Linked DNA regions of Homo sapiens: region 2 is reported to be linked to region 1. The links are microRNA targets in miRTarBase. Many come from high-throughput screens and were not tested one by one. Region 1 holds a microRNA gene; the other region holds the end of a gene's coding sequence.
Evidence for each region. The annotated mature microRNA hsa-miR-4708-5p reads AGAGAUGCCGCCUUGCUCCUU and lies in region 1 at 4,496-4,516, opposite strand. An mRNA with a match to its seed (bases 2 to 7 or 8) in the 3' UTR can be bound and repressed. Matches are read on the target gene's strand: a 7mer-m8 pairs with bases 2 to 8, a 7mer-A1 pairs with bases 2 to 7 and ends in A, and an 8mer does both.

Region 2: miRTarBase lists TULP3 as a target of hsa-miR-4708-5p. Seed matches in the 3' UTR shown: 7mer-A1 at 3,705-3,711.

Annotation. Positions count from the first base shown.
Region 1 is chr14:65,330,660-65,341,250 of GRCh38, forward strand. MIR4708 (microRNA 4708) reads right to left here and starts at 4,524; the gene lies at 4,458-4,524. RefSeq lists enhancers at 1-509, 5,463-5,562, 5,623-5,772.
Region 2 is chr12:2,937,107-2,947,697 of GRCh38, forward strand. It overlaps TULP3 (TUB like protein 3), which reads left to right. Exons shown (of 11, transcript NM_003324.5): 9 at 525-623; 10 at 1,008-1,179; 11 at 2,205-4,032. The coding sequence ends at 2,338. Among named protein-coding and RNA genes, the nearest start is that of TEAD4, 17 kb to the right of the region's middle.

The DNA of each region.
Region 1 (10,591 bases):
CCAGCCTCTATTTTTATGCTAAGTACCTTAAACCCATGTAATCTTCAGAACAATCTCAAGAACTAAGTATAATCATTCCAACGCAGATGAGGAAATGAAAATTCAAAGGGAGAATGGGGAATTTGTTAAAAGATTCCAGTTGTAAGTGGTGGCAAAATAATGAACCTAGGATAACCTGATTCCAAAGTCTTCATTTTAAACCCCAACAGTGAGGCTGGGCACAGTGGCTCAAGCCTGTAATCCCAGAAATTTGGGAGGCCAAGGCAGAATCACTTGAGGCCAGGAGTTCTAGACCAGTCTGGGCAACATGGTGAGACTCTGTCTCTACAAAAAACAAAAAAATCAGCTGGGCATGGTGGTGTGTACATGTAGTCCTAGCTACTTGGGAGGCTGTGGCAGAAGGATCACTTGAGCCCAGGAAGTTGAGGCTGCAGTGAGCCATGACAGTGCCACTACAATCCAGCCTGGGTAACAGAGGGATCTTGTCTCTAAATAAATAAATAACCCCCAACAGTGGCCTCATATCTTGTCCAACAACTAACTCTCTAGGAGATTTGTTAAAAATAATTTTGATATGCCAGGTTCTCGCCTGTAATCCCAGCACTTTGGGAGGCCAAGGCAGGTTGATCACTTGAGGTCAGGAGTTTGAGACCAGCTTGGCCAACATGGTGAAACCCTGTCTCCACTAAAATACAAAAATTAGCCGGGTATGGTGGTGCGTGCCTGTCATCCCAGCTACTCAGGAGGCTGAGGCAGGACAATCGCTTGAACCCAAGAGGTGGAGGGTTGCAGTGAGCTGAGATCACGCCACTGCGCTCCAGCCTGGGTGACAGAGTGAGCCTCCATCTCAATAATAATAATAATAATAATAATAATAATAATAATAATAATTTTGATAAAGATCCACTCCAGGAGATCCTGATCCAGTTGGTCTCGGTTAGAGCCTGGTCATTAGTATTTTGAACAGTGTCAACCTTGTGAAAGGAAAATAAATCTTTGGACCCCCCCAAAGAGAAAAGTCAAGCTGGGAGCTGCTTAGGGCAAACATGCCTCCCATTCTATTCCTTAAAGGAGATAGCTACTAAGATAAAAAAGCTATATACCTGCCTCACAATTTGTCTACAAGGAAATTCCTTTTGGACAAAGGACAAACAGAACGCAAAGTCATCCCTCTGCTCACTGAGATAAATGCATATCTGATTGCTTCTTTTGGAAAGGGTAATTGGAAACTCAAAAGAATGTTTGTCTATCTATGACCTGGAGGCCCCCTCCCTGCTTCAAGTTGTCCCACCTTTCTGATTGAACCAATGTACATCTTACATATATTGATTGACGTCTTATGTCTTCCTAAAATGTATGAAACCAAGCTGTGCCCCGACCACCTTGGGCACATGTCATGGGACTTCCTGAGGCTGTGTCACGGGTGCATCCTTAACCTTGAAAAAATAAAGTTTCTAAATTGAGACCTGTCTCAGATATTTGGGGTTCACAACCTAAATTAATGAGATTCTGAAGAGATGATTAAATATAGAGTTTGTAACCATAATCGTTTCATTGCCCAATGTGCATAGCAAGTCAATACGCTGAAACACCTAGTTGCAAGAGAGAAAGAGGTTTAATTGTAGGGCAGCTGAATGTGATGGGAGGAAACCTCAAATCAGTCTCTCCAAGGAATTTGGGTCTAGAATTTTTAGTGATTTTGGAGTGGGCTGAAGTGTGGAGATCTTTGCTTGGCCCAAGGGTGCAGGATGAAGTCATAGAACAGGGAGATGAAGAAACTATATTCTCATGCTGATTCTGCTCTCCTCTGGGGGTCTTCAAACTTGTTGGCATCAGCTCAAATTTGGGATCTGAAAAACATCTTAAGCAATTCTTAAACAAAAGCCTTATGATTCTAATGTCAGAGATTCTATCTATCTTAATCAGAGGCCTGATGATTCTAACCTCAGACAGAAATACTATCTGTAGGAACAATGAGGATGCAAGTGGTCAGGATCTAGTACTCCACAACTTTCACTTCCTGTTGTTACAAGGAAGTGAGCCACAGTGCAGCCTAATTAATGCTTAATCATAACTATATTTCTGTCCAGAATTCTTGTTAACATGGTGAAGATGGCTTCAAGTTTATTCAAGCTCAAAGCTTGAGGGTGGCCACCCAAGAGCATAGATTCAAGTTGCCCTAAACCCACACTCTGATTAGAAATAGCTACAAGAGGATTTTTAAGGAATAAAGAAGAGGCAGCTCCTAAATTGTTTACCAAGAATTTATACTAAAATAACATAAGCTATTGATTGGGTATGTGTTATTCTTTGCATCACAAATTCCAACATGAAGATAATGGGTAAGGCAGTTAAGCAGGAACAAAATGCCTTTACACAGTTGCCCTGGACATGGGCGCAGAGATGTGACTGAAGTCCCATACTCCTGTCTCTCCAGGCTTGATAAATTTTGTATACTTCACATAGCTCAGACTGATCTGAGCTATTTTTCTTTCTCAGCGGAGTCTCCGTAGTCTCCGTAATTCAGAGGCACACCAAAATTTGAAAGCCAGCTCTACCACTGACTAATTGTGTGATTTTGGACAAATTAGTTCATCTCCTAGTATCTCAGTTTCCTCATTTGCTAAATGGGGAAAATAACAGCTCCAACATCATTGAGCTGTTGTGGAAATTAAATTAATTTAAAATGAAAGCACTTGGAAGAGTACTTGGCACATAATAAATGCTCAATAAGTGTTAAAGATTGCTACTTTTCCTGTCCCTTAGCAACTAAAAAATATCTTTTAAGGAGCGCCATTTCCTGGACATACTACAAAAAAGGGGAATTGCCTGCATTTACATAGATTTTTTGATAGTTGATGTCTCTGAGAGCAATATTCTTTTAGCCCCTTCTCTAAATCCAGGTTTATGCCTAATTTAGATCCCACGGTCTCCTGTGGTCCTAACCACCTTGTGAACATGTTATGAAGGTAAATTGAAGTTAATCTAGGGATGGAATGATGAGAGCAGGTAAAAGATAAATAGTTCAATGGTTCTCAACCTTGGCTATACCTTATAATTATCTGGAGAGCTTTAAACAATGCCCAAGTCAGCTGGGCATGGTTGCTCACGCCTATAATCCCAGCTCTTTGGGAGGCTGAGTCAGGAGGACTGCTTGAGGCCAGGAGTTTGAGACCAGCTAGGCAACATGGTAAGACCCCCTCTCTATTATATATTAAAAATAATTTTTAAAAAATGCCTAAGTCACACCCCAGACCAATTAATATCAGAATCTGTGGGAACAGGGCTCAGCTATCAGTCTATTTTAATCTCCAGATGATTCCAGTGTGTAGCCACTGGCCTCATCTTAGCTCGGCTGAGCTGGTGAGACCCAGTAATCTGTATTCTAACAAGCCTTCTGCAAATCTCAGGACCTTTGGTGTGAACCATCCCATCATCCTCCCAATGTCCAGGCCTCTGATTTCACTTCTCTGCCCAGTGGGTGTGACTTGAAAGCAAGAGAGGAGGTGCAACAACCCTTAGTTTCTGTAAGAAGGTACAAGGAGACCAGTTCTGTATATCAAATCCTGGTTTATTCTAGCCAGACCTGTCTTAGGGACAATGATGGTCTTTCAGCCTAAATGCTTGCTTCTCAGGAAGCAGGTGAGCCAATGAAGGGCCCCACTCTCTCCAAGTGGAGACTATAGCATTTGCCTAAAATACCCCTTCTCTCCAGTCCTAACTGTCCTGGAAGCTTCTCAGAGGCCAAATATGTAAACAAGTTCCAAACCAACACATCTGCTTTTCATTTCCTGCGGAATGCTAAAACGAGTCTTTTAAGGTTGCTTAAAATATGTTCTCTCCTCCCGCCCCACCCCCCAGGGCATTTGCTGTGCGTCCTCAGACCACCTCAGCTCCTCCTTCCCTACACCTGGGACTCTTCTGCGCAGACTTGGCTTCAAACAAGGCTCACGGTTCTTCCTGGCATTTGCTTTTTTGGCTTAGCGAGTGCACATTCAATATCTTTTTCTTCTTTTTCTTGAAAGCACTGTCTTCAGTCTCCTCACTTGTCCCTTTCTCCTCTGGCAAGCGTAATGCTATCAACATTTGAAAGTGGCCTGATTCCCTGGTGTCTGGTAAATGGCCTTGCTGGTGAACTTCTTTAGGAGAACTGCAAAGAAACTAGAGCAGGGGCTAAAGAGAGCTGCTCTCTTGGGGCTCAGATGCCCCTCCTGGGGCCCCACCTCACACTAGGTGGGTTTCCTTCCTAAATTTGAGCAACGACTCTGTGTGACCTTAGCCACCCTTAACTTTGCTCTGCTTCTGTTTAGCATCTGTTAAGGAGTGACCTTTGCCACCAATTAATGAGGGTGAGGCCCCATTCAGTTGCAAAGAACGTGGAATTGTAAACAAACTTGCAAGTGGAAAGACTAGTTCCAGGGGAAATGTAGGTAAGAAAGGTGCTCCCGTATTCTCCTTTTAGTATCAGAGAGATGCCGCCTTGCTCCTCCTGTTCAAGGAGCAAGGCGGCATCTCTCTCCTAAATATGCTGTTGTGTCTCATACCTCAGCTTCTCAGGGCCCTGCCAAGAGCGGGTAGGTAACATAACAACAGCTGTTACTGCCCCAATGTATCCTCCCTCCAAATGTCAACAACATACACTTTGGAGTGGCCTCTTTATGTTAAGGCCTTGAGCTTTAAGACTCAGCTCTGGCCTTTAAGAATCGTATGTTCCCGTTGAAGAGACAGGATGTGTGTAAAGATAGCAGCTAGAGACCATGCCCAACAGATAACAAACATTAAGGGAATACATAAGTATTGAACAAATATATATGGAGCACTAATTATGTTTTGTTGTAAGCTCTGAGGCTAAAGTGTTATAGGACTTTCTCCTTAGTTCAACTAAAAGCCGGATTCTTGTCACACAGCCATGAGAGATTAGGCTTGCAGACACTTTGAAGGGTGAGAAGAATGGAACTTATTGGGCAAAAAGGAAAATAAATGGAAACAGGGACTCTCAGCAAAGTGAGAGTCCTGCTTGCTGGTTTTTCCTGCCTCACTGATTGAATCCCATGTACTACCCTGGATCAGGAGAGGCCAGGCTCCTTCCTGCTGCAAAGGGTGTGAACTTCTGCAGCTCCACCCTGTTCTCCCAGTGCGCAGGCCAGTCGGAGTTTCTCAGGGGACCCCTTTACACTTGGCTGTCTCAAAAAACAGGGAGCAAAACAGATAAAACCCCTGGCTTTATGGATCTTATGTTCCTTATATATATATATGTATAAGGAACACACGTATATATGTGTATATATGTATATATATATTTTTAGGTTCTGGAATAAATGTGCACAACATGCAGCTTTGTTACATAGGTATATACATGCCATGGTGGTTTGCTGCACCCATCAACCCGTCATCTACATTAGGTATTTCTCCTAATGCTATCCCTCCCCTATTCCCCCACCCCCTAGATCTTATGTTCTAATGAGACAAGACATACTTTGAGAGGCCAAGATGAGTGTCAGCAAATAAATATGTATAATACACCAGCTTCTGGGAAGTACTTTGAAGGAAAATGAAGCAGATTAAGGAGGGTAGAGTGACATGGTTAAGAGAATGTGGTTTTTTAGATGGGAGATCAGAGAAGACCTCTCTGGTAAGGAGACATTTGAGTCAAAATCTGAAGAAGGAGGGAGTGAGTCATCTGAGTCTGTGAAGAATTTTCTAAGCAAGGCGAGCAGCAAGCACGAAGGCTCTCAGGAAGGAGTGTGCTTGGTGAGTTCTAAGAACAAGCAGGCCAGTGTAGCTGGAAAGTAGTGAGCAGGAGACTGTGGGCAGGAGAGGACATGAGAGAGGTGACAGAGTGGATCACTGAGGACCCTGCAAGTGGTGGTAAGGACTTTAGATTTTGTTTTGAAGCCATTGGAGGGCTTTGAGTAGAGCAGTGACATGATTGGACTCACACCTTGGAAGGATCACTCTGAGCATGGACTCCAAGAGTGCACAAGGAGAAGTGTGAGGCCAGTGAGAAGGGTGCTGCAATAATCCGGGATGAGATGAAGATGATGGTGGCTTGGACCAGAGAGAAGAGACTAAGGGTGGTGAGATGAGATTAGATTCTGATATATAATGAAGGTAGAGTAGACAAGATAGATGAGATATAGGGTTATGATTTATGACATAAAGAGAGAAATCAGGAATGATTCCAGTGTTTTTGGCCGATACTCAAGGTTTTAAATTTATAGCAGGGATGGGCTGCTTCTGGTTAAGATAATAAGGGAAAGATTAATGAAAGACCCAAGATTTGAGCTGCACTTTGAAAAACTAGTAGGATTTTGTGACTTATAAAAAGTCTCAAGGGCTTATTTTGAGACCATTTTATCTCCTGGAGTGCAGCCTCCTACCCTAGTTCCACTTCTTTCAGTTATATCAACCAGGAGCTCTGGGATGCGGGACTCAGCCAGCCCAAGGAAGGTGAATCTGGATTCTTTAGGCCAATCATGAAAATTTTCTACTCTTGCCAGTAACTGGTTTAGAAATGGGCTGGTTTAAGAATGGGAATGTACTGGCCTGGGCATGGTGGCTCATACCTGTAATTCCCATACTTTGAGAAGCCAAGATGAGAGGATTGCTTGAGTCCAGGAGTTTGAGACCAGCCTGGACAATATAGTGAGCCCTCCTCTCTACAAAAATAAAAAATAAAATTAGCAGGGCACGGTGGTGCGTACCTTTAGTCCCAACTACTCAGGAGGCTGAGGTGGGAGAATTGCTTGAGCTCAGGTGTTTGACACTGCAGTGAGCCATGATTGAGCCACTGCACTCTAGCCTGGACCACAGAGTGAGACCCTGTCTCAAAATAAATAAAATAAAATAAAATAAAATAAATAAGGCATATGCTATAGTTCTGGACAATGGAACATAAAAGGAAACTGCAGAAGGGACGTCTGGGAAAATCTCTAAGTCTTCAAAAGGAAGCAAGGTACTCTGGCCTTGAGATGTTGTTAAGGACATAGAGCTTGAACTGCTATTGCCATCTTGCAAACATAAAGAGGAAGGTAAAGGCAACAGCTGCAGAGTGGCAGAGAGAAAAGGTGGACAAGCATGGTTCCTTGAGAACATTGCTGAGCTATGGAATTACCCAACCCTGGAACTGCACAACTTCTGAATTTTTTTTTTTTTTTTTTGAGACAGAGTCTTGCTCTGTCGCCCAGGCTGGAGTGCAGTGGTGTGATCTTGGCTCACTGCAAGCTCTGCCTCCCGGGTTCACGCCATTCTCCTGCCTCAGCCTCCCAAGTAGCTGGGTCTACAGGCGCCTGCCCCCATGCCCAGCTAATTTTTTGTATTTTTAGTAGAGATGGGGTTTCACCATGTTAGCCAGGATGGTCTCCATCTCCTGACCTCGTGATCTGCCCACCTCAGCCTCCCAAAGTGCTGGGATTACAGGCGTGAGCCACCGTGCCCGGCCCTGAATTTCTTTTGTAAGATTAAAAAAAAAATCTTATCATGAAATGCTTTTGAGTTGGGCAGTTTCTACTTGAAGCTCAAAGTACATCGTTTTAGATAAGCAATAAAGATTCTGGTTAGAAGAGGGCAAAAACAAACACTTTGAGGCAAGACTTTCTTGGAGACAAGAAAGCTCAAAGCGTATTTGGGGAGGATTGGTGGAATAGCTTGACATTCATTCATAAATTCATTCACTAAGTATTTGTTGACGCCTACTGTGTGCCAGGCACTGTTCTAAGATCTAGTATTCTGCAGGAAACAAGATTGACAGGGTACCTCTTATGGAGTTTATTACCTTGTGGAGGAAAGAGGGGTGCATGTGGACAGTGGCTACTGTATTGAACAGCACAGGCATAGGGTCTGGGAAGGCCTAATTCAGGGAAAGCATGAAAGGATGAAACTGTGAGTTTTGGCAATGGCTTTAGGCTTCTGCTGCTCTGCTCTCGATTCATTCTCCAAAGAGATTTATTAGGTCAAAGGGCATAAATATTTTTAGGACTTAAAATTACTTTCCTAATTGGTTACATCAATTTATGGTACTACCCAAGGAATACAGGTCCTGATATTACTGGGTTTGGATTTAGGGATTTCCATTTTAATTTGGTAGGGATTAATTTAGTAAAGGAGTTCATTTAATAAAGTTAATTTAATTAATTTAGTGAAAAAATACCATGCTTCTTTTAATTTGCTTCTTTTTGATAATTAGTAAAATTGACTACTTTTGTGTGTTTGTTAATACTTGTTCTTTTGTTAATTGTTTTGTTAGTTTTTATTCAGTTATCAGCTGAGATCTTAATGGGATTCTTATCAACTTATCTGAGTTCTTGACATAGTTCTTGTTGTAAATATAACTCCTGGTATGTTGTTTGTTGTTAATTCTGGTGATGTATTACATATAAAATTTATTTATAAAGAATTTTTAATTTTTTTGAGACAGAGTCTCACTCGGTCACCCAGGCTGGAGTGCAGTGGTGTGATCTCGGCTCACTGCAACCTCCGCCTCCTGGGTTCATGCCATTCTCCTGCCTCAGCCTCCCAGGTAGCTGGGACAACAGGCGCCTGCCACCTCGCCTGGCTAATTTTTTGTGTATTTAGTAGAGACGGGGTTTCACTGTGTTAGCCAGGATGGTCTTGATCTCCTGATCTCGTCATCCGCCCGCCTCGGCCTCCCAGAGTGCTGGGATTACAGGCGTTAGCCATCGTGCCCAGCCTAAAAAAATTTTTATGTAGTTAAGTACTTTAATATTTTCTGTGTAGTATACTATATTGCTATACTAGAAGCAATGTACTATTGCTTATACTATAAGCAATTAGTATTGCTTATAATTATAGAGTCATCTTCCCACTACTGTTTTGACAAATTTTCAATCCTATTTTCTTCTGAACTTCACAGTATTAAATGTTTTTAAGACTTGAAATCAAACAAAATTAATTTTAATATATAAGGTGTGGATCTCAATTCTTCCCTTCCCTCTTAAACTGCTGGTCAGTTATCCATCCACCATTTATTGAAAAATATTTGGCCAGCCATGGTGGCTCATGCCTGTAATCCCAGCACTTTGGGAGGCCAAGGCGGGCAGATCACCTGAGGTCAGGAGTTCGAGACCAGTCTGGTCAACATGGAGAAACCCCGTCTCTACTAAAAATAGAGAGATTAGCCGGGAATGGTGTTGTATGCCCATAATCCCAGCTACTTGGGAGCAGGAGAATCACTTGAACCTGGGAGGTGGAAGTTTCAGTGAGCTGAGATTGCGCCACTGCACTCCAGCCTGGGTGATAGCAAGACTTTGTCTCAAAAGAAAAAAAAGAAAAGAAAAAGAAAAATATTTGTTGATCTCATTGTATCATGATAGCTTTATCATACACTGGGTTATTTATGAAGAAAAGAGATTTGACTCACAGTTCCACAGGCTTAACAGGAAGCATGACTGGGAGGCCTGGGGAAACTTAAAATTATGGCAGAAGGTGAAGAGGAAGCAAAGCACATCTTTCCATAGTGGAGCAAGAGAGAGCTAATGAGTGAGGGGGGACGTGCCACACACTTTTAAAACATCAGATCTTGTGAGAGTTCACTCACTATCGCGAGAACAGCATGGGGGAAATCCACTGCCATGATCCAATCACCTCCCACTAGGTCCCTCTCCCAACGATGGGAATTACAATTCAGCATTTGATTTGGGTGGGGACACAGAGCCAAAGCATATCAGGGTGTATATTTGATATGATCTTTCTATTATATTACAGAAATCTGTCTTTTTTTTTTTTTGAGATGGAGTCTCACTCTATCACCCAGGCTGGAGTGCGCTGGCACAATCTTGGCTCACTGCAACCTCCACCTCCTGGGTTCAAGTGATTCTTCTGCCTCAACCTCCTGAGTAGCTGAGACTACAGGTGTGTGCCACCAGCCTGGCTAATTTTTGTATTTTTAGTAGAGACGGGGTTTCACCACGTTGGCCTGGCTGGTCTTGAACTCCTGACCTCAGGTGATCTGCCTGCTTCGGCCTCCCAAAATGCTGAGATTACAGTCACTAGCCAATCTGTCTATCCTTTTTTTTTTTTTTTTGAAATGGAGTCTTGCTCTGTCACCAGAGCTGGAGTGCAGTGGTGTAATCTCGGCTCACTGCAATCTCCTCCTCCCGGGTTCCAGCAATTCTCCTGCCTCCGCCTCCCGAGTAGCTGGGATTAGGTGCCTGCCACCATGCCTGGCTAATTTTTTGTATTTTTAGTAGAGATGGGGTTTTGCCTTGTTGGCCAGGCTGGTCTTGAGCTCCTGACCTCGTGATCGCCCGCCTTGGTGTCCCAAAGTGCTGGGATTACAGGCGTGAGCCACCGCGCCCGGCCTGTCTATTCTTAAATCAAGACTTCAATACAGGAAGCCAGGTGTGGTGGCTCATGCCTGTAATTCCAGCACTTTTAGGGGCTAAGGTGGGAGATTACTTGAGGCCAGGAATTCAAGACCAGGTTGGGTAACAGTGAGACCCCATCTCTAAAAAGAAAAAACTTCAATATTTTATTTTTTTTATAGGTTTTTACTTTTGATAGATCTCGTTCACCCTCTTTCATTCCCTTCTGCAACAGATTTTCTTTCTTTTTTTTTCTTTTGAGTCAAGGT
Region 2 (10,591 bases), not on the chromosome of region 1:
AAAAAAAAAGAGAAGTATAAAGAGATATAATATTACTTTCCTGTTTTTGATTCTGTTTACAGCAAAGTAATAAAATTATTTTTGGTACACCTGATTTTTTTTTTTTTTTTTTTTTTTTTTTTTTTCTGAGGCAGAGTCTCACTCTTGTCGCCCAGGCTGGAGTGCAACGGCGTGATCTCGGCTCACTGCAGCCTCTGCCTCCTGGGTTCAAGCAATTCTCCTGCCTCAGCCTCCCGAGTAGCTGGGATTACAGGCGCCTGCCACCACGCCTGGCTAATTTTTGTATTTTTAGTAGAGACAGGGTTTCACCATGTTGGCCAGGCTGGTCTCAAACTCCTGACCTCAGGTTATCTGCCCACCTCGGCCTCCCAAAGTGCTGGGATTATAGGCGTGATCCACTGCCCCGGCTGATACAGCTGATATTGTCAGCATCTTACATTCCCAAGAAAGTCTCATGTTATAAAAGAATGTGGTCTCTATTTTTTTCCTGTTTCCAAGTTCTGCTTTGTTTTCCTATCTTCCAGGAAACAAACGTACTTGGATTTAAAGGTCCTAGGAAAATGTCTGTGATCATTCCTGGAATGACACTGAATCATAAGCAGATCCCCTATCAGCCACAAAACGTGAGTAAGAATGTATTTAAATCAGTGAAAGACTCTAAAAGACAGTAGTACAATACACAGAGATTAATACAAAAAAAAAAAAAAAGATTGAGCTTCCAGAGCCCCACACTGGAGATAGCTCCATACACTTCTTTAGGAAAGCTGCCCCTCCAAAACCTCAGGATAAGAGCAGTTGCAGAGTCATTGCCTTGAAACCATTTTTTCTACAAAGAGAAATGCTGGATGATGTAGAATAATTTTAAAAAAAACCTGTCTTCATTGTTGGCTTTCATTCTTCGCTTCTGGTTTACCCTTTCTGAAATGGAGAAAGTATTCTCCTACTCTACCTTCTACCTCGTAGAGTTGGAGTTCTCAGTACAAAGTAATGATTTTCCCTTTGGACAGAACCATGACAGTTTGCTCTCAAGGTGGCAGAACAGAACTATGGAAAATCTGGTTGAGCTGCACAACAAGGCCCCCGTCTGGAACAGTGACACTCAGTCCTATGTCCTCAACTTCCGTGGCCGGGTCACTCAGGCGTCTGTGAAGAACTTCCAGATAGTCCACAAAAATGACCGTAAGCCTCCAGGAGGGGTTGGGTGGGAAGAGGAGGACAGATGCTCTTACAGGATGGGAATGCACATTCCCTGTACATGATAGGAAGTGACAGTCAGCAGATAATCATGGAGGAGAGACAGGATTTCTTTGGAAAGATGAAACTACAGTTTTAGAGAAAACTTGTAAATCACTGTGTTGAGGAGGGGAGAGGAGTGTGAGAGAGATGCTATAGCAAATCAGAGAAGTTGGCTGGGCACCATGGCTCACGTCTGTAATCCCAGCACTTTGGGAGGCCGAGGTGGGCAGATCGCTTGAGACCAGCCTGGGCAACATGGTGTGAAACCCCATCTCTACAAAAAATAGAAAAATTAGCTGGGCGTGGTGGCAGGCACTTGTAGTCCCAGCTACCCGGGAGGCTGAGGTGGGAGCATCACTTGAGCCAGGAGGTCGAGGCTGCAGTGAGCTGAGATTGCATCACTGCTCTCCAGCCTGGGTGACAGCAAGAACCTGTCTCAGAAAAAAATAAAAAATCAGAGAAGTCATAGAGTAGGTTGTTTGGGAAACAAAGGCAAATGACCCCAATAAAGGTTCCTGGCAGCTCTAGCCTGCGGAGTTTATGACATTCCCAGCAAGCTGCTCTCTATTCTACAGAAACCTGGTGATTAACTGGCCTATTTGGAGGATTCTTTCTGTATCATAAATAGGATCCCAGCACTTTGGGAGGCCGAGGCAGGAGAATCACTTGAGCCTAGGTGTTTGAGACCAGCTTGAGCAACATAGTGAGACCCTATCTTCACAAAAAGTAAAATATTAGCCAGGCGTGGTGGCGCTTGCCTGTAGTCCCAGCTACTCAGGAGGCTGAGGTGGGAGGATCACTTGAGCCTGGGACGGGAGGTCAAGGCTGCAGTGAGCTGTGGTCATTCCACTAGGCTCCAGCCAGGGCGACAGAGCAAAACCCCATCTAAGAAAAGGAAGAAAAAGAAAAAGATTTCCCTGAGTGCAACCACATTATATTCTAACATGTTGATTTCTTTCTGTTTCTAGCTGATTATATAGTCATGCAGTTTGGACGTGTGGCAGATGACGTGTTCACACTGGATTACAACTACCCACTTTGTGCAGTACAGGCCTTTGGCATCGGTCTTTCTAGCTTTGACAGTAAGCTGGCGTGTGAATGAGAGAACAGTCAGGCAGGGAGCCCTTCTCCCCACAGAGCTTTCAGGAGCAGACAGTGGCCTCCCCTTCCCCTCCCTGCCCCAGGACTTAAAGAGCAATAGTTTGCCCCTTTTGGAATGATCTCTGAATATATAAAACACACACACAAAGAGCAATAGTTTGCCCCTTTTGGAACGACCCCTGAATATATAAAACACACACACGAAGAGCAATAGTTTGCCCCTTTTGGAACGACCCCTGAATATATAAAACACACACGAAGAGCAATAGTTTGCCCCTTTTGGAACGACCCCTGAATATATAAAACACACACACGAAGAGCAATAGTTTGCCCCTTTTGGAACGACCCCTGAATATATAAAACACACACACACCCCGCGCACTCTCACTCCTTTTCCAGGTTTCATAGACTTGGTGAGGGATCACAGCTTAGCATGGGTGAGAGATGATTTAAAGCACAGGGAGATTCTTGTCACATTGGGGTCTCCAAAGCTAGAATGGGATTTCATGTGCTTGGAAACTTGCAGTAGAATCAGGGACTGACATCGCAGTTCCTCTCCTCTCTTCATTCCCTCACAGCAGATTGGCCGGCACCAATCTTAGTCAAGAGTGGCTGTGATCACATTTGTGATCAATTATGTGAGAATTTTATATAATTGTCTTCATTTCAATTAAGGCTGAAAGCATAAACTCTAGAGGTGACTCAGTCAGGACTGACAGTAATGTGATAATTGCCTTCATTTTCAACCCAGGAGTGCCTCTCACAGCTATATGACTACGGATCCATTAGTGAGGAGCGACACACACACCTGTAGGCATCCTGTGCAAACACTTTGTCATTATCAAGAGAGATGGCAGTATTGACCATTTAGTTTAGTTAAAAAAAAAAAAAAAAAGGTGGCAGGAGAGGCTTTGGGGAGGATCAGCCAGCAGACATGAGCACTGCTGGCCCGTGTGGCAGAGCTGTGGACTTTCTTCTCGGCTCCCTCAACCCTGGCTCAGGCACAGAAGGTGTTTTGCTACGTTTTTTTGATTATTACACCCCTCCACGTATTATGTGACTCTTACACCAGTTCACCCTTCCCAGAATGTATCCAAACCTTGAGAATGCAGGAGCTCTGTGAGCTCCACCGTCAGCACCATTCAGCTGCATCCCTTGTGCACAGAACTGTTTGCCAGCGTTGGGTGGGACACCCGTGGCGGCTGCTCCCTCAGACCTCCCTTCTGTGGACTGACCTCTCACCTCCGCCTGTTGTTCCTGCACCACATCAGATAAGCATGTGAAGGAGGGCCAACTGGCAGCTGCGGGACCCTTGGCTTGTCCCCCACCGACAAGTCCCACCTGCTGGGTGAGGACGAGACTGTTTCCATCTCAGGCATGTATCCCACCAAGTGCCTCCCTCACAGCCATGCCCAGAAGCCTCACACCTCGTCACCACCACCACCCCCCACCCCATCCTGAGGCACTGCCTGGCAGATAACCCTGGTTGGCCACAGAAGCTATTAATACACGACAGCATGTGGGGAAGGACTTATGGTGGGCCAGGTGGACCTCATCCTGCTTCTTCCTCCCTCTGGTTTAAAGAGATATATAAACTAATTTCACATAATTTGTGTGTGCAGGTGATTGGTTTTTACATAAGTCCTATTTATACCTTTTATATGTTACAGAAATAAAAGTTAATTTATATAAAAATGTGTCACTGCCTTTGCAAGTCCTATGCCTCAGGAAGTTCCTACTGTCATGTTATATAATCATAATTGTCATCTTGGGCCACGTGCAGTGGCTCACGCCTATAATCCCAGCACTTTGGGAGGTTGTGGCAGGCGGATCACCTGAGGCCAGGAGTTGGAGACCAGCCTGGCCAACACGGCAAAACCCTATCTCTACTAAAAATACCAAAATTAGCTAGGTGTGGTGGTGCATGTCTGTAATCCCAGCTACTCAGGAGGCTGAGGCATGAGAATCACTTGAACCTGGGAGGCTGAGGTTGCAGTGAGCAGAGATCACACCATTGCACGCCACCCTGGGCCACAGAGTGAGACCCTCGCCTCAAAAAAAGAAAAAAAAATGTTTTGGTAACACATCAGTTCTGTAAAACCAGGTGATTACTAACAAACTTCTCATCCTGATGTAGAGCAGGAATCTGCAGACTAAGAAGGCTGTGTTCCGGAGGCTACCTAGACACACTATACACATGATAGCCAGGGGCATCTGGACAGAGGACGGGACCGAGAGCTGAGCTTAGCAAGGCCACAGAGGGTAGAGTGTACATTCTTTGCATGCCTGCCCAGGTCCGCTTCCCAGGTTTGTTCTTGTTGGCATTGTTTACTGGTTCAGCAGCAACACAAATGAACTATCTCATAGACCCCATCGCTTGCCTCTGAATGTTAACGTTTTGTTTGTTTTTTGAGACGAAGTCTTGCTTTATCACCCAGGCTGGAGTGCAGTGGGCATGACCTCGGCTCACTGCAACCTCTGCCTCCCAGGTTTCAGCAATTCTCCTGCCTCAGCCTCCTGAGAAGCTGGGACTACAGGCGTGCGCTACTACACCCAGCTAATTTTTGTATTTTAAGTGGAGAAGAGGTTTCACCATGTTGGCCACGCTGGTCTCGCCTTGGCCTCCAAAAGTGCCAGGATTACAGGCATGAGCCACTGCACCCGGCCTTTTTTTTTTTTTTTTTTTTTTTTTTTTGAGACGGAGTCTGGCTCTGTTGCCAGGCTGGAGTGGAGTGGGGTGATATTGGCTTACTGCAACCTCTGCCTCCTGGGTTCAAGCAACTCTCCTGCCTCAGCCTCCCGAGTAGGTGGGACTACAGGCGTAAGCCACTGCGCTCGGCACCCCCCCCTCCTTTTTTTTTTTTGAGACAGGGTCTCCTGTTGTCCAGGCTGCAGTGCAGTAGTGTGATCTTGGCTTACCACAGCCTCAACTTCCTGAGCTCAAGGGATCCTCCTACCTCAGCCTCCTGAGTAGCTGGAACTATAGGCATGTGCCACCAAGACTGGCTAATTTTTTGTATTAAAGTACAGACAGGGCTTCACTGTGTTTTTCAGGCTCGAACTCCTGGGCTGAAGTGAGCCTCCCACCTCGGCCTTACAAAGTGCTAGAATTACAGGCACGAAATACCATGCCCGGCCTTCACATTTTTAAGCTGCCCTATGTTCAGAAGTTGAAAAAAAATGCTGGGTGTGGTGACTTATGCCCAGCACTTTGGGAGGCCGAGATGGGAGGATCATTTGAGGTCAGGAGTTCCAGACCAGTCTGGCCAACATGGCAAAACCCTGTCTCTACTAAAAATACAAAAATTACCTGGGTGTGGTGGCGGGTGCCTGTAATCTCAGTTGCTTGGGAGGCTGAGGCAGGAGAATCACTTGGACTGGGAAGGCAGAGTTTGCAGTGAGCCAAGATTGTGCCACTGCACTCCAGCCTGAATGCGACTCTGTCTCAAAAAAAAAAAAAGTGTCCACAAAGCTTTCCTAGGCTTTCTGGCTCTTATCAGCATCACAGTGATGAACACATGGAAAGAAGCAAGAAGAGCCTAAAAATCAGGACAAGAGCTGGAGTCGATTCTTACAACTTGATTTTTCCTTTTTTATTTTTTTAGTCTTCCACATGCACAACATGTATTTTCTTTTTCATATGATTCTTTTTGGCTAAGGTGCATGGGTGGCCAGTTTTTCTGTTTTTTTTTTTTTTTTTGAGACAGGGTCTGGCTCTGTTGCCCAGGCTGGAGTGCAGTGGTGTGATCTTGGCTCACTGCAACCTCTGCCTCCTGGGCTCAAACCATCCTCCCACCTCAGTCTCCTGAGTAGCTGGGACTACAGGCATCCACCACCCCCAACTAATTTTTTAATTTTTGATAGAGACAGGGTTTCACCATGTTGCCCAGATTGGTATTGAACTCCTGGGCTCAAGCGATCCTCTCCCCTTGGCCTCCCAGAGTGTTGGGATTACAGGCATGAGCCACCGTGCCTGGCCCAAATAGATTCTTTGTGACACAGTTTTGTACACTAGTGATCAGGGACATACTGGTGGGCATTGACATGAAAGATTTCAGCAAGTGTCAATTACAAGTCTAAAAACAGGCCTGCAAAAGGCTCTTTTTGATCAGTTTAATAGATCATAGAAGAAATGAACTAGCATCAATTCATTTCCTTGAGATCAGCATTGTAAGTGCAGAAATAAAGTGATGGTTCGACTAAGGCAAAATCTTCCTGGGTTCTGACCCTATTTCTGCCAATGATTTGCCATGTGCCTCCTTTATAGATTGAGAGACTTTGAACTACGTGCCCTTTTACATTCTTTTTTTTTCTTTTTCTTTTTTTTTTTTTTTTGAGACAGAGTCTTGCTCTGTTGCCCAGGCTGGAGTGCGGTAGTGGGATCTCGGCTCACTGCAAGCTCCGCCTCCCGGGTTTACGCCACTCTCCTGCTTCAGCTTCCCGAGTAGCTGGGACTACAGGCGCCTGCCACCACGCCTGGCTAATTTTTTGTATTTTTAGTAGAGACGGGGTTTCACCGTGTTAGCCAGGATGGTTTCGATCTCCTGACCTCATGATCCGCCCGCCTCGGCCTCCCAAAGTGCTGGGATTACAGGCGTGAGCCACCACGCCCGGCTACATTCTTGAATTACATGTTTCTCCCCACTCATGCTGACAACACTCTGGCATTCCCCTGTTTTGAGCTGAACTCACTGGTTACCCCTGGACAGCTTCATGTTCATGGCTCATGTTCATTAGCTCTGTTCATGGCTAAGGACGGCTAGCCTGAGAGGTGACACAGAGTTCAGGGAAAGCACAGATTGCCTCAGCGAAGGCACCATGGAGAGGAGACCGGAATTGTGGAAGAAACAGGATCGTGCACTGAGAACTGTCCTCTTTATTCTACCAAGTACGATTTATTAGCCAAGTTGACATTTGTCGATTTGGTTATAGTAACTCTTACAAGCAATTCTTAAGACACACACACAGCTTGCTCCTGAACTCCAGCATGTTGCAAGCTGCGTTTTTCCTCGGCCTCCAGCTCCTGCCCGGGAACTGTCTGCACGTCTAACACCTGCTTCTCTTCAGTCCACAGCTCTCTCAGCCTGGCCCACGCAGGCCCCAGCCAGGGGCATGCCAAGGACTTGGCAGTTTCTGTGCCACCTCCTGAGACACGTTTCCTGACCACTGGCATAGTGGATCATTTTGCCTCCTTTCCTGCTTACGTCTCCTCGTTATCACTGTCGATGGATATGCTTTAAAAGTCTCACAGTCTTTTTTATCAACCAATAGACTCCCCTCATCCACTAAAAGCTAAGGCTGCCACAAATGAAGGGGTGCAGTGAGAACGGCAGATGGTTCCATGGCGCCACCCACTGTCCAGGAATGCATGTTGCAGGTGCGTTAAACGGGCAGACCCCGCACAGGTGAGGAAGTCACCAGGCGAAAACAGCAAGCCGACCACATGACCATGCAGTTACCAAGCACCTCGTGTTAGACCATGGCTCTCTTCTGAAAGCCTGAGAACACTAATATTTCTGGAGTTTAGAAACTAGTTAAGGTGCCAGGCGCGGTGGCTCACGCCGAGGCGGGAGGATGACGAGGTCAGGAGATCGAGACCATCCTGGCTAACACGGTGAAACCCCGTCTCTACTGAAAATACAAAAAATTAGCTGGGCACGGTGGTGGGCGCCTGTAGTCCCAGCTACTCGGGAGACTGAGGCAGGAGAATGGCGTGAACCCGGGAGGCGGAGCTTGCAGTGAGCCGAGATGGCGCCACTGCAGTCCGGCCTGGGCAACAGAGCAAGACTCTGTCTCAAAAAAAAAAAAAAAAAAAAAAAAAAAAGAAAGAAACGAGTTAAGGTATTCTAGGTAAAATGCCCAGGATCTGGCCGGCACAGAATAAACACTAAGTATAGTGGCAGATATCTATATTATCTTTTTTTACTTTGAGGCAGGGTCTCACTCTGTTACCCAGGCTGGAGTGCAGTGGCATGATCTCACTGCAGTCTTGACCTTCCCAGGCTCAAGTGATCCTTCCATTTCAGCCTCCGGAGCTGCTGGGATACAGGCATACAGGCGTGAGCCACCACGCCCAGCTAATTTTTTTTTTTTTTTGTATTCTGTAGAGATGGGGTTTCATCATGTTGCCCAGGCTGGTCTTGAACTCCTGGGCTCAAGCAATCCTCTCACCTCAGCCTCCCAAAGTGCTGGGGTTACAGGTGTGAGCCATTGTGCCTGGCCATAATTTTTATTAATGTTCTTTAAAAATAAAACAATGAGCTCGAATGGTGGCTCGCACCTGTAATCTCAGCACTTTGGAAGGCTAAGGTGGGAGGATTGCTGGAGCCCAGAAGTTCCAGACCAGCCTGGGCAACATAGGGAGACCCCATCTCTACAAAAATAAATTAGCCAAGCACTGTGGCACGAGCCTGTAGTCCCAGCTACTCGGGAGGCTGAGGTGGGAGGATGGCTTGAGCCCAGGAGGCTGCAGTGAGCCAAGATTGTACCACTGCACTCCAGCTGGGCAAAAGAGTGAAACCCTGTCTCTAAGAAAAAACTTAACAGAACAATTATCTTCTTAGCCACGCACTTATAGAGAATGGCTTATACATGTTTATAAAGCAAATTTAGATGGTTTTTCAGAGACAATAGGAGAGGACAGAAGCACAGCACGGTTTAATCAGGTTACTCCACACACCAGTGCTAGCCCAGCCCTGATCCTACCTCCCTTTCCTCACTTTGTACCCATCTCTCTTGTTTTTACTTGAAGTAACTGCCTGTACAAATATTAGCCCTGATGTTGTTGGAAATTTTTGAAGTATTTCAAATACAAAATGGGCCTCCAAGATTCTTTATAGATGGGCCTTGTCTTTTGGTCCGTCAGGCCTGAGCCCCAACACGGCTTTGGCCATGACCAAAGCGGGGTAAAGCTGGGGGCTTAGGTGGGGGCAGGCTTTTTCCTGGTCTATCACCAGCCTTTACTATACCTCTTTGGTTTAACATTGGGGCTCTCAAGCCACAGGGTTTAACATCTAGTTAAGCACTTTCTACCTAGATTCTGCCCCTTGTCATGAATCTTAAGTGTTTCAAGAATAATTATGCAAGGCCGGGCGCGGTGGCTCACGCCTGTAATCCCAGCACTTTGGGAGGCCGAGGCGGGCGGATCACGAGGTCAGGAGATCGAGATCATCCTGGCTAACACGGTGAAAGCCCGTCTCTACTAAAAAATACAAAAAATTAGCCAGGTGTGGTGGCGGGTGCCTGTAGTCCCAGCTACTCGGGAGGCTGAGGCAGGAGAATGGCCTGAACCCAGGAGGCGGAGCTTGCAGTGAGCCAAGATCGCGCCACTGCACTCCAGCCTGGGCAACAGAGCGAGACTCTGTCTCAAAAAAAAAAAAAAAAAAGAATAATTATCCAGCAGTTCTCTTTCTTCCGTAGTTTGGGAGTAGGAAGATTAGGAAGGAAGAATGGTTTGAGGAGAAAGGAGGGTGACAGGCAGAAGAGGGCTAGGAAGTAGAGCAGCATTTTTAAAGTGTGTCTAGGCCGGGTGTGGGCGCGGTGGCTCACACCTGTAATCCCAGCACTTTGGGAGGCCGAGGCGGGCAGATCACTTGAGGTCAGGAGTTTGAGAGTAGCCTGGCCAAAATGGTGAAACCCCATCTCTACTAAAAATACAAAAATTAGCCAGATATGGTGGCGCACGCCTGTAATCCCAGCTACTCAGGAGGCTGAGGCACAAGAATCACTTGAACCCGGGAGGCGGAGGTTGTAGTGAGCCAAGATTGCACCACTGCACTCCAGCCTGGGTGACAGAGTGAGACTGTCTCAACAACAGCAACAAAAAAGGTGGGTCTAAGTTCCATTTCCAAAGTACTGATGCATACTTAGGACAAACCATACCAGGCTAAAGTAGAAAGTGACCTCGAAAAAGGTTTCCTGATTTTTGCCTTTGGTCAGTCGTATGTTGTTCTATATCAGCTATTTTTTTTTTCTTTTTTCTTTTTTTGAGTCAGAGTCTCGCTCTGTCGCCCAGGCTGGAGGGCAATGGCGCAATCTCGGCTCACTACAAGCTCCGCCTCCCGGGTTCACGCCATTCTCCTGCCTCAGCCTCTTGAGTAGCTGGGACTACAGGCGCCTGCCACCACGCCCGGCTAATTTTTTTTGTATTTTTTTTAGCAGAGACGGGGTTTCACCGTGTTAGCCAGGATGGTCTCGATCTCCTGACCTCGTGATCCACCTGCCTCAGCCTCCCAAAGTGCTGGGATTACAGTCG